4 linked regions of the Homo sapiens genome follow. The protein of the gene in region 1 interacts with the protein of each later gene in a biochemical or structural test. Each region holds a gene or a part of one and is shown in the gene's direction. Other genes may lie near its edges.

Region 1 (5,460 bases):
TTTGACACTGACAGGAGTGGAACAGTAGACCCACAAGAATTGCAGAAGGCCCTGACAACAATGGGTAGGTATGGCTTACTAGAACTCTCCATTCATTGGTAGAAGTAAGTTGATTTTTATTTTTAAAACCAGGCTGGGTGCAGTGGCTCACACCTGTAATCCCAGCACTTTGGGAGGCCAAGGAGGGTGGATTGCCTGAGCTCGGGAGTTCGAGACCAGCCTGGGCAACACAGTAAAACCCCGACTCTACTAAAATACAGAAACATTAGCTGGGCGTGGTGGCATGCACCTGCAGTCCCAGCTACTCGGGAGGCTAAGACAGGAGAATCACTTGAACACAGGAGGCAGAGGTTGCTGTGAGCCGAGATCACACCACTGCACTCCAGCCTGGGCGAGAGTGAGACTCCCTCTCGTAAATAAATAAATAAATAAATAATTGCTACCTGAAGGCAGTTTCTGTTTTCTTAGAAATTGTGTGTGTTCATAATTAATATGAGTCTGCAGTCTTAAAAAATAAAATAGTGCTTGATTATTTTATTTTTTAATGAGCTTCTGCAATCCTTTAACCTTTTTACTGGATGGCTTTTCTTTTAGGATTTAGGTTGAGTCCCCAGGCTGTGAATTCAATTGCAAAACGATACAGCACCAATGGAAAGATCACCTTCGACGACTACATCGCCTGCTGCGTCAAACTGAGGGCTCTTACAGGTGAGTTCTATAAGGTCGTGTCATCACCACAAGCCAAGACACAGTTTTTATTACATTTCATCTCTCAGTGCTTCTCAACTTTTATTCTTCCCAAATTTTTTCTTGCTTTAGTAGTTTTTTTCAGATTACTATTAAGCATATCTGGCAAAATAATTTTTTGGTTTTTTTTCCAGAATTTATTTTAGATTAGTAAGTAATCTGCCATTAAAATAAACAATTAAATTTTACTAAAATGTTCTAAAACACAATCAGCTAACTTGTGCATTTTTGATCAGATAATAATGAATTTTTCCCCAGAATGTGAAATATTTGGAAAGAGTGAAATTAAAATAAAATCCTTTTCTATAGGGCAGAGCTGAAATGGTAGAGAAACTGATTACAGCCCATTTGTTATATTGGGGACTCTTTATCTGTTTCTTAAGCAGTATCTTTGTTATTAAGAAGCTAGAAATTCGGTGCTTTTATCACAATGAAGTAATGGCCATGGAAGTTGCACAGCTTTTACTGACTTTGGGTAAGGTATTTTCTCCAGATCTAAAAAAACAAAAAAACAAAAAACACAGCTGGCCAACTTCTGCCTGTTACTTTGTTGCATATTAAATCTTTTACTATTCATATAGTTGGCTTCTTTGCTTTGGTCTTTTGTTTATGTTAATTGGTTGCACAATTTAAATGTTACTGCAATGTGAATTCAATGCCAAAATAACTAACTTTTATGATTTTAGAAAAACCATTTAAAGAAAAACCATAAATTTTACTGTGTTGTTTTACAGACAGCTTTCGAAGACGGGATACTGCTCAGCAAGGTGTTGTGAATTTCCCATATGATGATGTAAGTCTTAGAAATTAAGAGATACAGTAGATGAAAAGGATGTACACCAGATGGGTATCCCTTTGAAATTAGCTGTTAAGAATATCTTAAGGTTAAGGATGCCAGAGACATAAGGGATTCAAAAGTTAGAAAGAGTTATCATCCAGAATTTATTAATTTCATTTATTAGTCTTAACTATAGTGAGACCATGATTTGATTTGCATTCAGAGACCTGGGTTCAAGACCCAGCTTGTTGTATTTATTAGCTGGGTCACTTAAGCAGGTTTCTTAATTGCTGTGACACTATATGAATAAAGAAGATATAGTAGTAATGCCTTTTTCACTGAGCCATTGTAAGATTTCTATTAGAAATGCCCTTGAAAAACACTATGCAGATATACTATCTGCTTTTGTCTTCTGTAAACAAATCATGTCAGTCACTGAGAATAGATAACAGCTCAATAGTTTTGCATACCTATGTTCTTCATTGAGGGCATAAGGCAGGCAACAACTTAAATCACAATTTTTTTTTTTTTTTTGAGATGGAGTCTCGCTCTGTTGCCCAGGTTGGAGTGCAGTGGCGCAATGTCAGCTCACTGCAACCTCCACGTCTCGGGTTCTAGCGATTCTCCTGCCTCAGCCTCCTGAGGGACTATAGGCATGTGCCACCATACCTGGTTAAGTTTTTTTGTATTTTTAGTAGAGACGGGGTTTCACTGTGTTAGCCAGGATGGTCTCGATCTCCTGTCCTTGTGATCTGTCCGCTTAGGCCTCCCAAAGTGCTGGGATTACAGGCGTGAGCCACTGCTCCCGGCTAAATCACAATTTAAAACAAGTTATTTACTAAACAGCCAAACTAAACAAGGGTAGGGTAAGGCCATGTAATCAGTGTGAACATAACCTAGTGCCATCTTTGATGGCATTAGCTGGATGTATATAACAAAGCTAGAGAGATTGGTTACTTGTTTCTTCAGTTTTTGCTCAGCCATTGATTTAAAAACAAAAAACAAACAAACAAAAAAACTTGTAGAATTGAAATGACTGTAATCACTGAATATTCCATTCTCCATTACAAAATATAAGATGCATGTATTTTTGGTTTAGCAGCTGCTGCAGTTATAAGTACACTTTTAAAAGCTTAGTATGTGTGTGTGAATATGCTTATTTTACCTGCTTAAGGGTGTGTTCTCTTTAACATGCGTTAACTTCTTAGTTGACAGTCCCCTTGCTGTTTCTAAAGATCAGAAGGCTGCCTGGGGAATGGAAAGAAAGACCATGGGCTTTGACTTCAGATGGGGCTACTTAAAAGATTTCTAAACATCCTGATCCTTATTTTCCTTTTCTCTAAAATAGGGATAATCACCTTGACCTTGCAATAGAGCTGCAAGGGTTAGCAGTGCACAATACCTTAGTAGTGTAGGGAACACTGATAGAGCAGAATCTATTGCTTTATGTTTAGCGGGGAAGCCAACATTTCACAGCAAATACTGGTATTTCTAATCTCAGGTATCTGAAGGGTTAGCTGTTCTGTTTCTGTGCATACATACACTTGCATGCTACAATTTGTTTTAATAAAGCAGATTTTAAGGCAATAAACTGTTTAAGGTGTTCCATTAGAGTAATGGGGTAATACTGTGTGGTTTGGAAATCCCCACGTAATACAACAGTATAAACTCCAGTTGTTTGTGTTTGTGGTAAGTGTCTTTGACCACGGCCATTTCTAGTCTTGGATATTATTTGGAATTTAAATAATTATTCAAATAATTATTTAAATTATTTATCCATTGAAGTTATATCTGCTTTCTCTAAGAAGTTTTGATGTGAGAAACCCTGTGGATTTTATATTAGACTGCTTCCCTAAAAAAAGGAAACTTTTCCATCTATCATTTACTCATATCTTAGAAAGTTGTAGGGGTTGTTTTACCCGTGTTCAAATTAGAAAACCAAATGTAAGCTGCCAGAAATAGGCTGTGCCGTATAAGTGCTTTGAGGTCTGTCATATAATGCTGATTTTTCTTTCAGTTCATTCAATGTGTCATGAGTGTTTAAATCAAGAGGAAGCTGCATGAATGTAATCAACATTCCAACTGGAGCTCTCCTTTGCTTGTCCTCTTTGCCTTCGGTAATATGTATAAACTTACATCACGACTTTCTCTTAACAGCTGTTGTAAAGTTTATTACTTTATGTACAACTGAAGTTTTGTTTTAGTTTTGATAATAAATTCTTTGGAACTTTAATAAGATCTAGTCTGTTACACCATTTAGAACTTTCCTGAGCCATTATCAGTCATGCCTTATTTTCTTGCTAAAACTCTATGTAAATTTAAGTATGCAAAATGTTTAAGTCACATTATTTATTTTTCATTGTGAGACACTAAAAACTGTTAATCAGACTACAGCTGTTATCTTTCCTCTCCTACAAAGAATACTCCACACATAAAAACTTAGGTAAATGACATAGACGCACTTGGGTGAAATAAAACAACAAAAAAGGTAATCCAGTAATCCACGTCAGGATTCACCTTAGAAGTTTAGCACACGCCCTTCAAAACCTGTTGAATAATTTGATTGGCAAATACTATCTGTCACCAAGTCCCTTTTTGTCATCTATTTAAACCTTTGTTAACTCTCCTTAAAAATCTTGTACATTATAAGCTTAACTATATAAAAAGAAAATTGATAGAAAAAGACTAAGGGAATATATGGAAATATTAACAATGTTTATTTTGGATGAATGGAATTCTAGATGACTTTAATTTTCTTTATATCAGTATTTTTCAGATTTTCTATATGCTTTCCTTTTAAAATCAGATTTTAGTTTTTAAAATACTGATACATCCATTTTGATATACCATGTATTCACACTTTAAAAAATACACATAGCAGAGTATCGGAAAGTATGTACCAAAACATTGATCTGGCTACCACTGGGAGTCAGGATCATGAGTTCATCTTCTTCCTTCTTACTGCTTTTCCAAACATTCTCCAGTAAGCAGGTACTACATTTATAATGGAAGGAATTTTTTAAAAAATTTTAAGCTGTACACTTTCAAGTAAGATCTGAATTCTAATGCTGGCTTGTGCCTCTTACTATGTGGTTTGGTCATTATAGATAATGCCCAGTTTCAGTTTCCCCATCTTTGAAAAGGAGATAATATGTTATCTCTTGGGAGTAGTTCTGAATATGAAGTGTGTTGATACAAGAAGCACTGACAATGTTTCTGTTTCTTAAATTTAAAACTGGCCTGGTTTGCCTTTTTTATCAAGAGAGCTTAACAGATAAAAAATGAAATTAGTCTATTTTCTACTTGCCAGCAGAGTATCTGTCTTATTTTAGGATGCAGTGTGAAACTTACCATTCAACTGAACAACTAGTTGTCAACTAATGAAAATAAAACATTTTCTCTAAGCATCTTTAGCCTCATTTCACTATTAATTTTTTAAAATATTGTTAAAATATATATTATTCAAACCTAACATATAACTATGGCAAGTTAGTTAGCCCAGGTTACATATCAGAATGTGAAGCAGCCTGCTATATATTACACAGTGACTATAGATTGCATCATCTCCGTATATTGTCTGTGAGGCCATAAAGCTCTGCTTGAGTCTGGGCTATCTAGAAAAGGGCCAAAAAGGGGCTCAGAGGATTAGGAGGCAGGGAGCTCACCTTCAGTGTCCTAGCACCTGCTGTTTGGTTTCAACTCACCAGGGTCCTCTGAGGAAATCATAGTTTAAGGAAATGGTAATTTCCTGGTTGAGGATAAGCAGTAGAGAAGGCCCTTGCTGAAGGATATGGGCCATATTTGAACAAGTCCCAAGGTGTGCTGCATCAGTTGTGGTTCTGAATTGGCTTTGGGGTGAATACAAAAGCATCCCTCTGACATTATATTAGTTTGTTCGCACACTGCTAAAGACATTACCCAAGACTGGGTAATTT
Region 2 (7,036 bases), on another chromosome or scaffold:
AGAAAATGCAAAAACCGCCAGGCACGGTGGCTCAAATGCCTGTAATCTCAGCACTTTGGGAGGCCGAGGCTGGCAGATCACCTGGGGTTGGGGGTTTGAGACCAGCCTGACCAACATGGAGAAACCACATCTCTACTAAAAATACAAAATTAGCCAGGTGTGGTGGCGCATACCTGTAGTCCCAGCTACCCTGGAGGCTGAGGCAGAAGAGTCTCTTGAACCTGGGAGGCGGAGGTCGCAGTGAGCTGAGATTGCGCCATGGCACTCCAGCCTGGGCAACAAGAGCGAAACTCCGCCTCAAAAAAAAAAAAAGAAAAAAAATGCAGAAACCTGTCTCAATGTTTAACTGGGCATTTTTCAAACTAGGGGACAAAAACTAGAACTTGCCACTTTTATTTAAAGTGATGCTCTTATTTTAGACCAATCTGACCTTCGTTGGCTGCGTGGGCATGCTGGATCCTCCGAGAATCGAGGTGGCCTCCTCCGTGAAGCTGTGCCGGCAAGCAGGCATCCGGGTCATCATGATCACTGGGGACAACAAGGGCACTGCTGTGGCCATCTGTCGCCGCATCGGCATCTTCGGGCAGGATGAGGACGTGACGTCAAAAGCTTTCACAGGCCGGGAGTTTGATGAACTCAACCCCTCCGCCCAGCGAGACGCCTGCCTGAACGCCCGCTGTTTTGCTCGAGTTGAACCCTCCCACAAGTCTAAAATCGTAGAATTTCTTCAGTCTTTTGATGAGATTACAGCTATGGTGAGCATGTTTGAACATGTACAGGTGACTCAGGCTACACAAGCACATAGTAGCCTCTAATTTTGACCACTGAATTTTTTTGTCATAGCTCCCTAATTTGGAATTTGTCATGATTTGGGTCTTTTCTCTAGAATTCGGTGAATCAGTGGTTAGCATGTTGTGTGCTACTTGCAGGGAAGATCCTAGAGTCGTTTAAAACCCAGAAGGGCCTTCCAGATCAGTCCCAGAGGAACAATCTGGTGATCTAGTCTCTTTTTTAAATGAGACGTGTTTTTATTGTAAGTTTTCTGAAAATTGAGGATGTAATCAGTCAGTTGTTTGGATCACCCTGCTTTTAAGTTCTTTAAGAGCTGGCTATTGATGAAGCATTTCCAGTATTCTTCCCCTCACCTGATTTTCACCCAGATACATTATGTTAAATTTACTTTCTTCTCTTTTAAAAAAAAATCTTAGTTTTGAAACATACTATAAGTGTACTCTCCTCTCCCCCAGAGGTAACTGAAGTTGGAATTTAGCAAAAATATTAAAAACATGGGAGTGCTGTTTTTGTGTCTGTAGACAGTATTATTTTTGCATGCTTTTGAAGGCATATTTTTTGGCCGAGTGCAGTGGCTCATGCCTGTAACCCCAACACTTGGGAGGCCGAGGCAGGTGAATCACTTGGGGTCAGGAGTTCAAGACCAGCCTGGCCAACATGGTGAAACCCCGTCTGTACTAAAAATACAAAAAATTGCTGGGTGTGGTGGTGGGCGCCTGTAATCCCAGCTACTCGGGAGATTGAGGCAGGAGAATCGCTTGAACCCAGGAGGCGTGCAGTGAGCCGAGACTGCGCCACTGCACTACAGCCTGGGCGACAGAGCGGGACTCCATCTCAGAAAAATAAAAATTTGCATATTTTTGCAATCTGCATCTTTCTACTTGAAATTTATCCATGTGGATACAAGTGCTTCCTCTTGACTGCCACATAGGTTGTGTTTTTGTTTTTAGTAAGATAATACAGATAAATTTGAAGTCCCCTTTGTCCCACTTCGGTAAACTTATTTGGTAATTTTACATTTCCTAGGTAAAATGTGTTTTGTGACACCAACTTATGAAACAAAAATTCTAAAACTCTTTGCCAAGAGACCTACGGCTCTATTCATTTTCCTCCTGCTTCCCATTCAGTGGGCTTTTGCCTAGGGGTATGAATGTGGCATGCCAGTTGGCTGACCCAACCATTGCTTTCCCTTTCAGACTGGCGATGGCGTGAACGATGCTCCTGCTCTGAAGAAAGCCGAGATTGGCATTGCTATGGGCTCTGGCACTGCGGTGGCTAAAACCGCCTCTGAGATGGTCCTGGCGGATGACAACTTCTCCACCATTGTGGCTGCCGTTGAGGAGGGGCGGGCAATCTACAACAACATGAAACAGTTCATCCGCTACCTCATCTCGTCCAACGTCGGGGAAGTTGTCTGGTAGGTCTCTGTGACAGCATCACTTACTGTACGCCTTTATCTAAATGGGTCATGGAGCCCAGTTCTCGCAGTTTGCTCTCCAGATTGCAGCAGCTTTGGTCTTTGTGCCTGAGTTGGAAGAGGGGAGTGGGCAAGACAGAAATGCCTTATGGAAGCAGTGGTGCTTTGGCCCTCGGGAGGGTTGTCTGCAGCTGCCCCAATGTGCAAAGAATCCTCTTTAACGTGAGACTGAGCTAACATTAACCAGGTAGTCACATGAAATTCTTGCCCTCCAAAAGTTGGCTTTATCTCAGTCAGCTTAATAATTTTTTTATTTTTATTTATTTTTTTGAGACAGTCTCGCTGTCGCCCAGGCTTCGGGCAGTGGCACGATCTCAGCTCACTGTCCCCTCCACCTCCTGGGTTCAAGCCTCCCGAACAGCTGGGATTACAGGCATGCGCCACCACTCCCTGCCATTTTTTTGTGTTTTAGTAGAAATGAGGTTTCACCATGTTGCCCAGGCTGGTCTCTTAACTGCTGAGCTCAGCCAGTCTGCCCACCTTGGCTTCCCAAAGTGCTGGGATTACAGGCATAAGCCACCGCACCTGGCCTCAGTCATCTGAATTTAAGTAATAAACTAAGTAAAATTGAGCTTTAATTCAAAATTGGGTATAAGTATTTTACAGATTACCTGAAGTTGTTGTCATTTATTTTTCTGGAGGAGGGCGGGTTGATGATGCTCTTTAAATAGTGGCCAGAAGTCATTTGGGCTCTCTTTGTCTTCTTTTCTTGATTGGAAACAGTATTTTCCTGACAGCAGCCCTTGGATTTCCCGAGGCTTTGATTCCTGTTCAGCTGCTCTGGGTCAATCTGGTGACAGATGGCCTGCCTGCCACTGCACTGGGGTTCAACCCTCCTGATCTGGACATCATGAATAAACCTCCCCGGAACCCAAAGGAACCATTGATCAGCGGGTGGCTCTTTTTCCGTTACTTGGCTATTGGCTGTGAGTACAATTTTTTTATATTACTGATTTTTAAACAAAATGTTTGTGAGCTGAAATTTTGTAAATTCATCCCTTAAAAGCGTGTTTTTTCTTCTATCCCCGTATAGGGTAGCAAAAGACAGAGATGCCCTCTTACAGTTCGATGAACTATACATCCAATTTACCAGAGTCCTTTCACAGTTAGTTCCAGTTTTAGCATCCTGCCCTTACTTGGGCTTTTCTGAATGAGCAATTAAACATCAGGGTTTTCAGATTGAGCCCTCTGTGCAAAGGGATAAGAATGATTCACGCTAGGTTCTGCCTTCCAAGAGTTCATAGGTGGGATTTAAATAGATAATTGTCACCAAGTTATAAAATTTAGTCCCTGTTTCCATAAGAGAAGGGTTGCGCAGTGGCTGGTCCCTTTTATATATAAATCATCTCTTTAGCCCTCATCTTCCTCACCCCGGGTTCTTCCCCATTTCATAGATTGGGAAAGTGAGGTGAAATCACTTCCCTGGGATCCCATAGGAAGGCATTGTGTTTTCATAATATATTCACATGACTTCAAATTCAAAAAGCACACAATGGCATAGAATGGAAAGGGTTTGGGCCAGTCACTTCCCTCTGGCGTTGAGGTGCTCATGTACCCTGTGCCCTTCCGGAGAGATTCCAGCATGCTGTGCACACCTGCATGTTGACCCTTGTCTTGCCTTCTTCCTGCTTGTCAGATCCTTCCATATCCGGACATGCGTAGTGCCTCATCCTTGCAGCCAGCGGCCTTCATGCTCCACTGTAATTCGTGGGTTAGTGGGTATATGCACTTGTTGTTTTTGATGCTACCACATGGGGATATTTGCCTCGTCTGAACTCTGTGTATTCTCTGCTGCACCTTGTTGCTTCTTTGCAATAAACTTCCTGAACTCAAAGCTAATACTGGGGGGAATCCCAGAAGCTGCTGAGGGCAGGGCCATGCTGCTCAGTGTTCCACCCTAGCTCCTGACAGCATTTCCCTAGAAAACTGCTGCTGGGCCTCTAATGGAGCAAATAAATCTGTGTACAACTAGGCAGCAATAGTTTGTCCAAAAGTCCTGGTGTAATCTAGTCCCTCAAACTGTGCAGCCTTACATGGAGTACACACACACTTGCAGCCTTGAAGTACTACCCACTGAGGGGAGAAGGCACGGCAAGGGGAAAGGTTGGCACAGGATGGAGCAAGTGCTTTTTCTCACACATTCTGGAGGAAAAGTTATCCAGTTCTTCTGTTCTAGAAACACCCCTGTCCTTCAGAAACCAGGGTCTAGTTGCTCTGGCTACCAGGCGTGAGCAGGTGGTGGTAGCACCACAGGCCCCGGTTACCATCACTGTCCCATGTCTTTGATCTTCGTCCTTGTGGGGACTGGCCTGCATGGCCTCGGTGGCAGCGAGCCCTGCAGAGGCAAGTGCATCAGCATCACTGTGTTTGTTCCCAGGTTACGTCGGCGCTGCTACCGTGGGTGCTGCTGCATGGTGGTTCATTGCTGCTGACGGTGGTCCAAGAGTGTCCTTCTACCAGCTGGTACTCAGTCACCTTTCTTTCTGTACCTTACATGAGAAGTGTTGTGAGGCCTTGACCTTTCTGTGGTTTCGGTATCTATCAAATCATCTTAAGACTCAGACAATAAACAGTTACATCTAAGATGATTCTGAAGGACCAGGGCTTCTCCGAGAAATTGGGGTAAACCTCTTGGCTGGCTCTGCATTCAGGCTGGTCTGTGCTAGGCTTGGTATGGGGTTGGAGCCTGGACTTGGGAAATATACTGGGCTGATAGGAATTTGATTGGATTTTCTTGCAGAGTCATTTCCTACAGTGTAAAGAGGACAACCCGGACTTTGAAGGCGTGGATTGTGCAATCTTTGAATCCCCATACCCGATGACAATGGCGCTCTCTGTTCTAGTAACTATAGAAATGTGTAACGCCCTCAACAGGTTAGTGCACCTTCACGGCAGGCTGAGGCGAGCATGGTGACTGCCAGGGCACCGGGGAATTGTGTGTAGTCACGGTTGATTGAGGATCACAGGACAGTTCTTCCCTTCCCAAAAGAAAGGAGAACAGGCAATACCAGTTTTAAAAGCATGAGCTGTCGTCACCTCCAGGAAGTAGTGGGAGTGCTTAGCCCTGTGTTTCTTAGGAGCTCTTCCTTAAAAGAAACCGTGGGGGCCAAAAATAGGAACTTTGGTACCCCTGTATGCCAGCACCCACAGGGAAGGAACCTCACCCTTTCACACAGACAAATGGTACCATCCAGTTAAGCCCGTGACAAAAATGGAAATTTCTAAATAGCCCAAGTCTCCAGGGCAATTGGGAACAGCTTTGAACCCACTAAGATGGGGTCTGCTATGCCAAAACATAGATACAGAATTCACAGTTTGTCCTGCATTAGGACATTCTCTTCAACTTTGCCACTGTAGAAAGTGGAGGTAGGTCAGCGGATGGTGCCACATTAACAGCCGCCTTACTGAAGTGTAGTCCAACAGGGTCTTACTGCCACTGTGACACGTGCCTTGCCTTGGGGGTGCGTTTCCCCACCTCTCCTTGCTCTGCAGCTTGTCCGAAAACCAGTCCTTGCTGAGGATGCCCCCCTGGGAGAACATCTGGCTCGTGGGCTCCATCTGCCTGTCCATGTCACTCCACTTCCTGATCCTCTATGTCGAACCCTTGCCAGTAAGTGGTTGGGTGGGGCTTGGGACCAGCCACCTCCTTCCAGGGGAGGCTGGAGGCGTGACACGTCTTCCCTGTGTGTCAGCTCATCTTCCAGATCACACCGCTGAACGTGACCCAGTGGCTGATGGTGCTGAAAATCTCCTTGCCCGTGATTCTCATGGATGAGACGCTCAAGTTTGTGGCCCGCAACTACCTGGAACCTGGTAAAGAGTGTGTGCAGCCTGCCACCAAATCCTGCTCGTTCTCGGCATGCACCGATGGGATTTCCTGGCCGTTTGTGCTGCTCATAATGCCCCTGGTGATCTGGGTCTATAGCACAGACACTAACTTTAGCGATATGTTCTGGTCTTGACTGACAGTTTTCCATAAAGAAGATGTTTAACTTAATCAATTAATTTTTTTATTGTTTAAAGCAACTGTCTATTTCTGCTGAATTTTCACATGAACATACTGGCTGGTGATGGAGGTTTCATACTCTAGATTTTGTTTTGCTTTTTCTGACTCCAGTGGGGCAAGATTTTCCTTTTTTATACACATAATTAAAGTGTCCATTGACATGTACAGAGAACTAACACTATTTTATGCAAATATTTTTTTGTAGATGAAAAAGCATGTACAGTGTTCTGTTTAATACTCATCCTTGTATAAAAAAAATAGTTGAGCCAGCAGACATTGTCAGCAAATTAATTGGCAGCAGATTTTAGGAAATGAATGTGTGTGGTTTTTTTTCTAAAACTAAATAGCATGTATTGTGTCTTTTGCATGATGATCCGGATTTAATTTGATATCACAGTCTAATTTTTATTCATAAGCCAATTTTTCTGCACTGAGCAGAGTCTTGCTACCTCAGTCAGTATTGTTTTGGTTTGCTACTTCCCTCACCCACTTTGGCCTCCGTTCACCCCACCCCACCCCACCTCTCCCCACCTTACCCCCGCCCCGCTTGGCTTCTTCTTTAGGATTGTGATGGTTCGTTCTGTTTACATCAGTTTTAACGAGAGGTATGCCTGTACTCGCTTGTGCAGAAAACATTGTTCCAGATTCAATCGACTGGGTTTATGTCCCTTCACATAGTTTTTAAGGTTATTTATTTAAATGTCTAATGTATTTTATTGTAACAGACATTGTTTTGCCAACATTGCCTATTTCAGTGGCAC
Region 3 (5,500 bases), on another chromosome or scaffold:
AGTGCTTTTCTATATGTGGTTGGGGGAAAGGGAACAAGTTTTCTTTAGTTTGCACAATGAGCAAAGGTATCACCAGTGTAGTCATTATTCTGCTCTCCACAAACAGGTTTGGACATTACTGTTTTGCATATCTTGTGTTTGCTTACATTTCCCTCAATTTTTCCAAAATCGTTTGCTGGGTATGTTTGTACCGCCTCTTGCTGTGAGAGACCAGGACCTATTTTATTCCAGTCTTCACTCTGTCCACTCTGCTCTGGTCATCTGATTTGGTACTTCTCCAAGAACAGCCCTTCACTGTGAGGTGCAGGGAGGCGTTCTGATGAGCCCTCAGTCACTGGGCCGTCATCCGCATCCCCCATGGAAGAGGTAGCTGGCTTTCCCTTCCCTTCCACCACACGGAATTTTCTCTTTGGCTTCCTTAGGAAAGTGTACACTAACCGGGAGGATAAAATTAAAGTCAGGCTGCTTGGAGGGAGGGGCATCCTCACTTCCGGATTCTTGTTGCTCTACCCAACAAGGACAGCAGGGGCTCGAGAAAGGAACTGGTGAAACCCTGATCCATCTGAAAGTCAACTCTGCGTGCTCCTTTCTCCATCCCTTCCTCACTCTGGAGCAGCCTTTCCTTCAGGCTTGCCCTAATGTTTGGGCTGCCGGGGAGGGGGCCAGGACAAGGGAAGAGGCATCCGGAGCTCACAGTGGGGGTGGGAACAGATTTTTGTGGGGGCATCTCTAATGCTCACTTATATCTCCCTAGAACATCACTCTTTTGGTGCTGTGTCCTTCAAATGTATGTCAACAGTGGTGGCTGAAAAGGGACTGCTTTGGGGAAAACAGGACCCAACCATTCACCCAGAATTGACCCATTAAATCTCTTCCAGTCCTAGTGTTCCCTGAGCCCCTCTTGGCACATATATAAGTAAGCTAGAAATTACAATAAGGGACAGTCCATTCCTCTATGACAGCTTGCTGGACTGATTCATGACAAAGTGGAGAAATGTACTCAATACTCCCCGGTTAACACAGTCTAGAAACAGAGTTTCTTTATGGATATCCACACCCAAGTCATCCAAACTTTCTTGATTCCTTTTCACTGCCATCAAGGTCCTCTAGAAATTGAGTTTAGGTATCATCCTTTGAAAAGTTCCCAAGATTTCTACCAGGAGGTACACACAGGCGTTCCCTGTCTAGGGCAGGAGGACTATCCTAGCTTGACCTTCTGATCCACTAGAATAAGACTGGCGTATGATGCCTGTCATCAGAACAGACTGGCACAAGTAGTGACATCAATGAACCACAGCACAATCTTCCAAGTGATGTCTACTCTCCACCTAAAATGGAATTTTCCCCATGACCTTGTAAAACATAATTGTCACATCTTCCATACCCCTCCTGACAGCCCCCAAGTGTCAGGAGAAAACAGTCAGGGGCTAAGGGCCCAAGGGACTTGAAGAAACAACAGTTTAAGGTCTGCAGTTTGGTCAACTTAATTCTTGTCCTCCGACCAGCCCTGCCTCTTTCATTTCCAGACCTTGGAGAATTTTTCCCAGCTTTGATTCAGAAGGTACTAGTTATAACCCCTTTCCTTCTTCTTAATCCAATAGGCCTCACTCTCACTGGGAAATCCACTCAAAGGAACAAGGCAATGTCTCTCATTCTATTTCCCAGTTCCAAATTCCAGGTGCTTGTCTGGAGTGAAGCTACCCGTTACTTTCTCCCAGCTTTTCTCCACCCAGCATGTCTCCTGCCCATGCAGCTGAAGACAGTGGGGCAACCTCAGGAGAAGCAGACCTTTCCATGCCCAAGTTCATCTCCTGAGCAACAGTGACACCTAGAAAATGAGGACTTTGGAAGTCACCCAAAAGATGGTGGCTACTTTATGGAGTCCTGAAGATACACAGCCACCACTCCTAAAGGCAAAGAAAGAAAACACGAATGTAGGTCAGGGATAGAGTGGAACCCTGGTCATCGGGGTTTTTAGCCTCATCGTGGGAAAGGTGGTAAAGGAGGATGATGGCATCTCCATCCCTAGAGGCCAAGAATTGAAATATCATTGTCAAGGATTAGAAACAATTCAGCAAAGAGGCCACAAAAAGGGCCTGCTGACTCCCAGAAGACCTCTTTAAACCCCAGGGGAGGCAAATACTTGCTGATGGAGTCTGGGCCGTTTCCATATTTTAAAGAAGACCTGCCTCTGGGGCAAATGTCAGCACAGAGAGGACTGGGAGGAGAATGGAGGCAAGAAAAGGGCATATTTTGACTCCCTCTGTGCCTCTTCCCAGTTCATGGAAGGATGTGTTCAGCTTACCCACCCACAGTGACCAGTGTGGTGGAGCCGCTGACATCTCAAGGATCTATTTGGGAAGGTGAGAAGAGTACTCATTCCATCTGGGGGTGTTGTTCCAGCCACATCAGCCTACCTGGTGGGATGTGGGGGTGTCTGCCACCCTGTCCCCCCTCTGCTGATGTCCCTCCCCTCAGGCTGTCCAGGTGCCACCTGACACAGGCTGCTGTGCAAAGACAGGCGGGGAAGCCCAAACCTCACTCCCAGGGAGGCCCTCAGCCGCCAGAGTCCAGGTTCTCCAGAGGCTACGATTTGAGGAGGTTGAGGGGGAAGACAGGAGGGAAAGAAAAGTCCTACAACTGTCAGGAATGGGGCACCTTTCCCTGTCCCTAAGCAAAGCTCCCTCTTCCCACTGCCCTCCCCAGCCCCAGCTCCCTGTCCTCCCCAACACCTAGTGAGAAAGACGGTGCGTGGAAGGGAGTCCCATGGGCAGATGCTTACACGACCTCTTTGTGAAGCCTCTTCTGGGTTTAACTTCATTCATCAATTTATTCTTATGTCAAAGCAATGAAACTTTTCTTTCTGGAGCCAGATACCAATACAACAGGTGAACGGGTTTCTGCCACATCTCTACATTGACGGGGGATGCTTGAACAACCCCCCTCACTACACAGACACACACCGTTAAGGCACAAGGGCTGGGGTTGAGCTCTAGATGAGGGACTTTCCTGCTCCTGCAAGGGTGAGCACTGTATACACAGACAAGGAGGGTGCAGTAGAGTGACTCCCTTGGATGGAAGTAGTACCATCAGAACCTACTATTATTATGACATAAATTCTATTTACATACATTGAGAGAATACTACAATCAACACTTTTTCCTGGGATGACTTTAAGAGGTTTGAGCCACAGCACCTGAAGTGGCAAAGATCCATGGTCTTTGTAGGGTATTAGAGAACTCTTCCAGTCACCTCTGAAAGCACTCTAGATCTTGCAGCTGAGTGGATGAAGTGTAACAAATCTGTTGCACGCTGAGAGGAGTCAGAATTAGCATTTTTCATGAAAGTTCCCCACGTCTCTACTAAGAATGAGGAAGAAAAGACTAAGACTAGGTAATTACACAGAGGCTTGAAATGTTACATCACCAGAGCCAAGTCCTCTCCCTTCAGATCAGTTACTGGCTGCTACACAGGGACACCCCCACCTTTTCAGGGCATCCCATGCACTCCACTTCTCAGGATCTAAGGAATTTGACTTTGTAGGGATCCCAGAAAGGGCACTGTGCCACTTCCCCTGGTGTGAATCAGACATACATTGTACATTCATTTCTAAAATTCACTCATGCACCTCAAACCAAGGTCATTATCCAAAAAAAAAAAAAAAAAGCTCTGGGTGGAAGAGTTTGTAAGTTTTAAGAGAGGGTCATTTCTATGTGAGGAAATGCAGAAATGGACAGAATGATTCTTATTCACTGTTTGGGTCTGGAGAATTCCCATTGTGGAAATCTTAGAGATCTCAAGTTTATTACCAAGGGAATAAGGAAAAAAAGGTGAGCAGGCACCAGGCCAAGCAGTGGCTCCCTTGCCAAGGAACCTGAGGCTGCAGGTTTCAGGGACCCCCTTGAAGAAACCTCTCCTGGCCATTGGCCAGGAGAAAAGAGAAGTCTCTCCTGTAGAGTCACAAGAGAAGCAAAAGAGGGTGGGTCACTGGGTCCTGGACATAGCCCCCAACCCCAAGACTTCCCAATATGGAGAAACTACACCAATGTTTAAAAGGGGAAAAGGAAAGAACTTGTACATCAAGGGAAGATGATTTGTAAACACACAGTCCTGTGCAGAAAGATCCCCTTCAGGAGGTGTCTCCAGCATCCCAAAGCTGTGCGCACCTTCTCTTTTCCTGCCTCAGGCCACCTATGCATCCAGCTGCAGCCCATACCCACACCTGAAATCCATCTCTTGAATCCCAGCCAGGTTATATACCACCCCATTGCCATGTCCTGTCCTGGCCAGAATGCATGCTGTTCCCCCAAGCCTCGTGGGAGTGAGGCCATGGGAAACAGAGATGAGCATGTCTGGACAAGTCTGTGATGGTAGTGGATGAGAATAACCCATGGCAAAACACGCACATTCATTAAGAAATAGGGCGACAGATTCCCCGTTGGTGAAGCACTGAAAGGTCTATTACTCTCATAATATTGCTGTTTTATTTTAATCCACCAGAGCTACCATGCAAAACTTTCCTCCTGTGAAACGCTCCAGATAAAGCTCCTCTAATCTCCCCTTCCCTCATGTCCTCCAGCTCAAACCCACCTTCATCCCCCAAACCAATCTGTATCATGCCTGTTATCAGAGAGGCACAGAAAGATGGGCAGTGCCTCCGTTGTCACCATTCCCCACACCCCTACACACCCCCACACCCTCCCCTCCAGGCTCCACGACTTCACAGTCTTACTGTTGTAAATATCATTGTACAGTTTGTAATCCTCAAATAATCCCATTGTCAGAGGCCTCGCCTGATGGGCCTTCTCACCCTCGAGAAAGGCCAGGGAATCTAGAAGGGGCAACCCTTCAAGGAGAGCTTCAGGGTCATCTCTGTGTGAGACACTATTGTATATTCCTGTAAGATTGCATTTTTATCTAAGGAATGATGTTATTTAAAAAACAAACAAAAAACACAAAAAATAAGAATTGCAAATAAATTTCTTAACAATGTCTACATTGACTTCATTGTATCTTCCCTCTTCCTTATTTCTTCCTTTCTCCTGTTTCCTAGAGGTCACAAATACAAACTTCACTCAGTTATCTCAACTGTCTGGGATCCCCAAAAGGAAGAAGACTGGAGAGAACACAGGAAATATGAATCCAATGATAATACCTAAGTCCATTCAGCAGTTAACCCATCCCCTATTTCTTCCTTCTCATGAAAGAGTTGACAGAAAAATGGCCAAAAGTTAAAAAGGAGACAAAATCAGAGGAATTAAATGGCTAATTCACATGGATTAGACAGGAAAAGCAGTCTCTGAAATTGGTTTTGAAAGGACAGAAGGGAAGAGGGATGGAATGTAGGAGAGAAGAAAGGAGGGGGAGATATGATAATATATAAAGTACTATGAGGACTATACAAATGTAAGATTGCTTTTCTTTTTTTTTGTTATTATAACTTAATCTGATTTCGATAAACCTTTCAGAATAACCCCTTAAGTAAAAATAATTTGTCCCA
Region 4 (7,036 bases), on another chromosome or scaffold:
TATTATTTAATCCCTATAACTACTCCTGTGGGGTAAGTAACATTATTAGACCCATTTAAAAGACAAAGGAGACTGATATTCAGAGAGTTTAGGCACATTACCCAGGGTCACCCACATCTATATCTTGTGGTAGGGCCTCCAGCTTGGTCTCTCTGATTTTAGAACCTCTTTTTTTTTTTTTTTTTGAGACAGAGTCTCACTCTGTTGCCCAGGCTGTGTGATCTCGGCTCTCGGCTCACTGCAACCTCCGCCTCCTGGGTTCAAGTGATGCTCCTGCCTCAGCCTCCCAAGTAGCTGGGATTACAGGCGCCTGCCACCATGCCCAGATAATTTTCATATTTTTAGTTGAGATGGGGTTTCGCCATGTTGGCCAGGCTGGCCTCGAACTCCTGACCTCAGGTGATCCACCAGTCTCAGCCTTCCAAAGTGCTGTGATTATAGGTGTGAGCCACCACACCTAGCCAGAACCTGCTCTTGTACAGGCTGTGTTGCCAAGGTGATGGGTGACGGCAGAAAGACTTCTAGGGGAAGCCCTCTTATAAACAGTGGCCTCAGGCTCCCTAGGGGACAGAACAATGGAACCACCTTTTCAACAGGGCTTTTTTCCTGCACTGAAACTGCAGGGCCTGGGAGGGAGGAGGCATATTTGCATGTGTCCAGGGCCTGACACATCTCTGCCTTTCCTTTATGCTGGTTTCCATGGGAATCTATCTTGAGCTGATGGGAAGCTGGGATTCTAAATGTGTGCTTGCTATGAGGGGAAAACACTCTGAGCTCCTGAGTGTGGAAGGAGAGTGGGATTAAATGTTGGCAGGGCCAATGCCACCTTTGCCGGCAAGGAAGGCATTTCTTAAACTCTGGGCATTCTACACCATAGGGTTAGTCTCCATGTCCCTGAATGCAGGGAGAGCTCTAGGTCTACCCCACCCTTCAGGATTTCATATTTTTGGGCCTCAGTTCCCTGTGACATTGACTACTTTTGTAAAAAAACTCTGCCCCACCTTGGAGGATATTAAATTTTACCTCTGCTGGATGCAGTGACTCATGCCTGTAATCCCAGCACTTTGAGAGGCTGAGACGTGAAGAAATCTTGCATCCAATAGTTCAAGACCAGCCTGGGCAACATAGAGAGACTCCCGTCTCTACAAAAATTGAATTAGCGGGGCCTGGTGGTGCATGCCTCTTGTTCCATCTACTCGGGAGGCTGAAGTGGGAGGATTGCTTGAGCCTGGGAGGTCGAGGCTGCAGTGAGCCAAGATCATGCCACTGCACTCCAGCCCGAGTGACACAGTGAGACCCTGTCTCAAAAAAAAAAAAAAAAAATTACATCTTAATGGTTATGTCATCTTCCATCCTGAAACAAAATTGGCTCCCTTAACTGTTTCACGTGGTCCTGTGTATGTTTTTCTTTAGTTTGTGGGCTGGAGTTGCAAAACCTTGGGTTAGGCCTAGAGTTCATAGAGACAGTATTATGAGTTCCCTGCAAGTCGGAAACCTAATCAGAAATGTTTCCAAAGCAGCAAATGCCACCTGGCATGTCAGAGCTCTATGGGAAATGAATGCTCAGTGAGGACTCCTAACCTGACCCCTTAATTGTGAAGCCCAGAGAAAGTCGGTGATACCCAAGGTCGCTCAGCCACCTTCGAGCTCAGGGGTCCTCACTGTTCATGTCCACAAAACCCAGCAAGAGGGAGATGAGAGGAGTCAGAGTAGAAAAGGGCAGTAGGCACTCTCTCTCTTGCCCTATTGGCTGCTTTGTAGGTAGCAGAGAAGGGTTGGGGTCTTTCCAGTCATCCAGAATAACCCGTAGCTTTCAAGAAAGGAGGCCTAAGGTTTAATTATTCATGACCTTTCTCATTCATTTAACGAATGCATCTTTAGTGTCTATCACATCCCTGGCACATACTGGGGATATCACTGTGAACCAAATAGACACATTTCCCATCTTCACAGAGCTTCATTACATGGATTAAACAAGTAAATATAATAAAACCAATTAAACAGGTAGTTAAAATGAAATGGGAAAGGTTCAAGATTTGGGGATATTATGGTAGCATATTGACAGAGAACCTAAGCTAGTCTTGAGATCAGGAAGGCTTCCCCAAGTATGGGATGTTTAACCTGAGACCTAAAGGTTGAGGACAGGGACAGCTCACACAAGTGCCACCTATGCAGTCCCAGAGGACTCCCACTCAGAAGGGCCCCACATTTGGGGTTGAATGCTCTGTGGTCAAAGTATTGAGATTTTAATTAATTTTATCTTTGAATTTATGATTTGTAAGTGAAGTCCATTGGGACAATGGCACATGCACCTCAAGCTTGGAACCTTGGCTCACAAAAGGTCCTGACTTCTGCCATCTCCCTGCCTCTAAGGAGGGGCTCTCAGCTTGATGTTTTGCCCTCTGGGGTCCTGGGCCACTTGGCAGAGGCCTGAGTGGGAGAATGGGAAGGGCCGTGTCTCAGGGAAGGACATGGCTCTGGTTGTCTCTACCCTGGGCTGACATTGCTGCAGTCCATTCAGTAAATGACCTATGAGGTTGAGCCTCCAAGGCCCTCCCCGATTCTGGGTACTTACTGTTTCCCAGGAAGCAGAGATTGCAACACCCTTGGGTGCCGGATGTCCACTATGGGTTGAGGTGGTGGGTCTGAGTGAAGGGGAGATGCCTGGCTCCACACCTCCACCTCTGGCCAGGGCACAGGATGTCGGGCTGTGGGATGGTGAGGGTGGAGGGGGAAGATTAGGAGGAGGCGCTTGTGGCAATCTGCACTTGCCCTGCACAACACTGAACAGCAATCAAAAGACACCACAGTAGGCTGAGAAAGGGGCTGAAAGAAAGGGAAAAGCTTTATATTTAGTACCTTCATCAGCACTCATTTCCTACTGTTTGAACGTGGGGGCCCACATTTTCACTTGTACTGGGCCCCCCATTATGTAGCCTGGCTGTGAAGGAGCGCATTGTAGAAGGCCAAGCGGGAGAGGGGATTCTGGGCAGAGGAAGCCACGTGGGCAAAGGGCTGGAGGCAAGAGACAGAGAGGTCAGGGGGGGATTTAGAAAAATCTCTCAGGCCCCATGTGGAGCATGGATTGGGGTGACGTGGGGTGAGATGGGAAGCAGGGAAGGGGGCAGGGAGCCCAGGGAAGTCATCCAGGCAGGAAACAGGGGAGGCTGGGCCAAGGCACTGGTGATGGTAAAGATGGCTGTGAGGTGGCCTTAAGAAAGACCTGCCAGGTGGAATCCATGGTGAGGACTGGAGGTGGGGATGGAGGTGTGGGGGAGGGGGAGGATGACACTTGGGGGTCAGAAGTGGACAGAGCAGATGGCAGTATCACTTACCAAGACTGCAGATGGGGGTAGGGAGGAGGAAGGTGGTGAGTTCAACTTCAGATGTGTGGTGATACAGGTGCCTGTGTCCACTGATGGGTAATTGGATTTGCAGGTCCAAGCATTTTATGACAGAGGTTTCCTCACTTTGGCACATGCCAAACTGGCTGGGTGGGGCAGGGGCGGGGATGGTTGTGGGCAAGAAGGGCTTCCCTCAGTTGCCGTGTGTGCGAGCAGGGCCGGGGGTGTGACTGCTGTCTGTGGGAATAGGCTCCCTTGGCAGTGTCCCTCCATATCCCTTCTGCCAGCACTGGCTGAGGGTAATAGACTTGGGGCCCGGGTTTCCTGGGGCTAGAGGTACACCTCTGACTCTGCCTGCTCTGTGTCTGTGGGAAATCCCAGGATCTTCCCTGAATAGAAGAGGAAACTGAGGCCCAGAGAGAGCAAGGAGTCCTGGGAATGAATATGCAGCTGATCAGAGGGTGGCAAGAGGAGGATCCAGGATGCTGACATCCTGGCCAACTGTGGGATGTCACAGTGGCACGGGCCTCTGAAATCAGCCCATTATGGCATGGTGGTTATAAAAATGGGTTCTGGAGCTAGAATCTGCTTTTGAGCCCAGGCCCACTCACCTACTAGCTGTGTGATCTTAGACAAGTTATGTAACCTTTCTGTTCCCTCAGTTTCCTCCTTTATAAAATGGGGATGATATTGTATACTTGAGAGAGGTAACTGGATGAGTGAAGACCTTCTAAGTTGTAGTGCTTTATCTATCAACAGAAGGAACTTTGATCATGCAGGCCCCACAGAGCAGGCTCACCAGCCAAAAAGCCTATAGTCACAGAGACCCCCAGGTTGTTCTAGATTCAAAGGGTCTAACCCCCAACAGTTATGCCAAAGGATTATTTCAGGTAAAGAATTCCTCTTCACCCTGCCCATCGTTTGTCCCTGATTTCTCTTTAACTCTGTGTCTTCTCTCCTTGAAACCCCTAACTTTTCTTAATGGCTTTCCTGATCACCCCTCCCCAGTCCTCCAGCAAATCAGCAGCAGCAGCAGCAACAATGACATTCAATATTTATCGATTACTTGCATATTGTCAGTCACTGTTCTAATGCCTTATATGTGTTATCACACTGAATGCCCATGAGGCAGGTACTTTTATTTTTCTCATTTGTACAGAGGAGTAAACCACAGCGCAGAGAGGTTAGATCACTGCACATGCCCAGGTGGCTCTGTGGGCAGGCCTACATCCTTTATTGGGCAGGGTTACCATTCCAGCCTAGGCCAGGCTGAGGGGACCAATGTGGAAAAGCAAAAACAATTATCAGACTTCCTAATTGTTGGGCAGACATGATAAACTGATTGCTTTTGCTACATTATCTCATTTCACCCTCAAAGCAATCCTATGTCAAAGTATGATGTTCAAAAAGTGAAAACACAACTGTGAGTAAAATATCCAAGGAACACATATCAAAGATTAGTTCAACTCAAAAGAGAACAAGCAGGCGTGTGAAGCTGAGTTAAAGGGAATTAGAGCAGCAGAAGTTATGACACCGGAGAGAGAATGATGGAATAGGATTGCTAGGTTAGATACCAAGCTGGTTAATGTCCTACAGGGCAATAAAACTCTAACCATTGGGGTTATCTTCCTATCAGGCAGAATTCATTTGCATCTCTAGAGGACAGAATAGTGAGAGCTAAACAAAGTTACATTCCCTCCTAGGTCAGTGGTTTTCAAGGGATTGGGGAGGGGAAGTAGTTCTGCCCCAGAGGACATTTGGCAACAACTGGAATTGTGAGGGGGAGGGGCAGGGGCGGAGATGTGTCCTACTAGCATCTAGTGGGGTAGAGGCAGGGGCCCTGCAATGCACAGGACAGCCCCCTCCCACCAACAAAGAAGTATCCAGACCAAAATATCATTAGGGCTGAGGTTGAGAAACCCTGACCTGGATAATTAGATAATCCTTGGCCAGGCCTGTTATAAAATGCTCCAACATGATATTACAAAGATATGGCATCCTTTCTTTGCTTTATTTCCAAGTTCTGGATAATTTAGATTTTTCTTAAGTAGATGGTGCCTGCTCTCCTCGAGGGCAGGGCAGGGCAGGGCAGGGCCTGGCAAGCTCTGCAAGATGGCTGCCCATTTGGCCCCTCCTGGGCTGCAGGGTGGCTTCCCACCCCTCAGGCATCAGCAGGCTCCACCAGGCCCCTGTCGCATTCCTGGGGTTCAAGTTGCTGCAGCGTCCTCCACGAGGCTGGAGCCTAAGCCTCTGGCAGCCAGGGCGTTTGTCTTTTTATAGGGTCTGGAATGCGCTCGCCAACTCTTGTGGCCAGCAGCCCATTCCCCTCGCCATCTGGGGAGGCTGGGGCCTCAGAAGGACCGCAGCTCTGGCCTCACCCCTTAGAGATCCAGGACCTGCAGAGCACAGGGTGGTTTGAGCCTGGGCCACTGTACAGAGAAGTGATGGTGCTCCAAAAGGGTCTGTGGAAATGAATGAAAGCCTGGATTTTAGACCCACCTGGGAGCCTGCCCTCCCACCACTGCAAGAACTCAGGTCCCCTTTCAGGGCACTTAGATTCTCCCCCGCCCATCCCAACCCATGCCCCTTCACACCAGGCACAGGGGCTGCAGACACTGTAATAGCTGAACAACAGAAGCCTTGGAGGAAAGCCTTGGAGGAAAGCCTTTGCCCAAGCTTTGCTAGCTCCCTGGGGAGTCGCAGGAAAGGACGGCCTCTCAAGTCAAACCAACCTGCCTCCAATCTAGACTGGTTGGCAGCTTCCTAAACTCTCTGAACCTCCATTACCTCATCTGTGAACAGAGGACCACAATATCTTTCTTTCTTTTTTTTTTTTTTTTGAGACCAAGTCTCCTCTGTCACCCAGACTGGAGTGCAGTGGCACGACTTCACCTCACTACAACCTCCACTTCCCAGGTTCAAGCAATTCTCCTGTCTCAGCCTCCCGCATAGCTGGAACTACAGGCACACGTCACCACACCTGGCTAATTTTTTTTTGTTTTTAGTAGAGACAGGGTTTCACCATGTTGGTCAGGCTGGTCCACAATATCTTTCTTTTCAGGACTGTTATATCCATGAGTGCAACAACCTCGTGTCTGACCTGGCACACAAGAGTTGCTCAATAAATGTTCATTCCCTTCCTTCTCTGACCTCCCAGCACTAACAGCCCACAGCTGAAGTCACACTGAACCCAAGCCTCGGGGGGCAAAGACAGACCTGGGGTGGATTGAGGGCGGGATCTGACAAATGTACCCAGGTGTCCCAGGCATACTGTATCTTTCTCTCCCCTCTGCCTGGCATAGTGGTTGAGACCATGGAGTCTGGAATCAAACTGTCTATACATATCATGGCTCTGCCTCTTGGTAGCTATGTGATCCTGGAGAAATTAATCCCTCTGTGCTTTGGCTTCCTCATCTGTAAAATGGGATAAGAGTACCTACCTTAGTCGGCTGTCGTCCGAAGCTAGGGAGGATGATGATGGACTGCTCCGCACAGACTGGGATGCGTGTTGGGTATGGGTATGACTGTATGTCCACTCTCAGTGGGAGCTGGGCAACACGGAGGAGTTGGTGGTCCTGTTGCTTGCTGATGGAAATATGTCGGGCCTTCCTTTTCAACTGGTTCCTCTATTGGGCCCAAGGGTTGGGAGTAGGAGACAGTATCCGAGGCTGACGAGGGCCTGCCTCTTACCT

What was found.
Region 2: the proteins of SRI (region 1) and ATP2A2 form a complex in vitro, tested with the Homo sapiens proteins (one study listed by BioGRID).
Region 3: the proteins of SRI (region 1) and CACNA1C form a complex in vitro, tested with the Homo sapiens proteins (one study listed by BioGRID).
Region 4: the proteins of SRI (region 1) and CACNA1S form a complex in vitro, tested with the Homo sapiens proteins (one study listed by BioGRID).

Annotation. Positions count from the first base shown.
Region 1 is NC_000007.14:88,204,587-88,210,046, reverse strand, and holds the end of SRI (sorcin), read left to right. Parts: coding exon 1-64; intron 65-594; coding exon 595-708; intron 709-1,481; coding exon 1,482-1,540; coding exon of another isoform or gene 1,541-1,558; exon of another isoform or gene 1,559-1,852; intron 1,853-3,542; coding exon 3,543-3,569; 3' UTR 3,570-4,932; downstream 4,933-5,460. UniProt on the Homo sapiens protein: Calcium-binding protein that modulates excitation-contraction coupling in the heart. Contributes to calcium homeostasis in the heart sarcoplasmic reticulum. Modulates the activity of RYR2 calcium channels.
Region 2 is NC_000012.12:110,340,240-110,347,275, forward strand, and holds part of ATP2A2 (sarcoplasmic/endoplasmic reticulum calcium ATPase 2), read left to right. Parts: intron 1-419; coding exon 420-755; intron 756-1,988; coding exon 1,989-2,209; intron 2,210-2,992; coding exon 2,993-3,195; intron 3,196-4,646; coding exon 4,647-4,732; intron 4,733-5,009; coding exon 5,010-5,143; intron 5,144-5,761; coding exon 5,762-5,879; intron 5,880-5,961; coding exon 5,962-6,231; 3' UTR 6,232-7,036.
Region 3 is NC_000012.12:2,692,955-2,698,454, forward strand, and holds the end of CACNA1C (voltage-dependent L-type calcium channel subunit alpha-1C), read left to right. Parts: 3' UTR 1-4,996; downstream 4,997-5,500. UniProt on the Homo sapiens protein: Pore-forming, alpha-1C subunit of the voltage-gated calcium channel that gives rise to L-type calcium currents. Mediates influx of calcium ions into the cytoplasm, and thereby triggers calcium release from the sarcoplasm.
Region 4 is NC_000001.11:201,102,393-201,109,428, reverse strand, and holds part of CACNA1S (voltage-dependent L-type calcium channel subunit alpha-1S), read left to right. Parts: intron 1-7,036. UniProt on the Homo sapiens protein: Pore-forming, alpha-1S subunit of the voltage-gated calcium channel that gives rise to L-type calcium currents in skeletal muscle.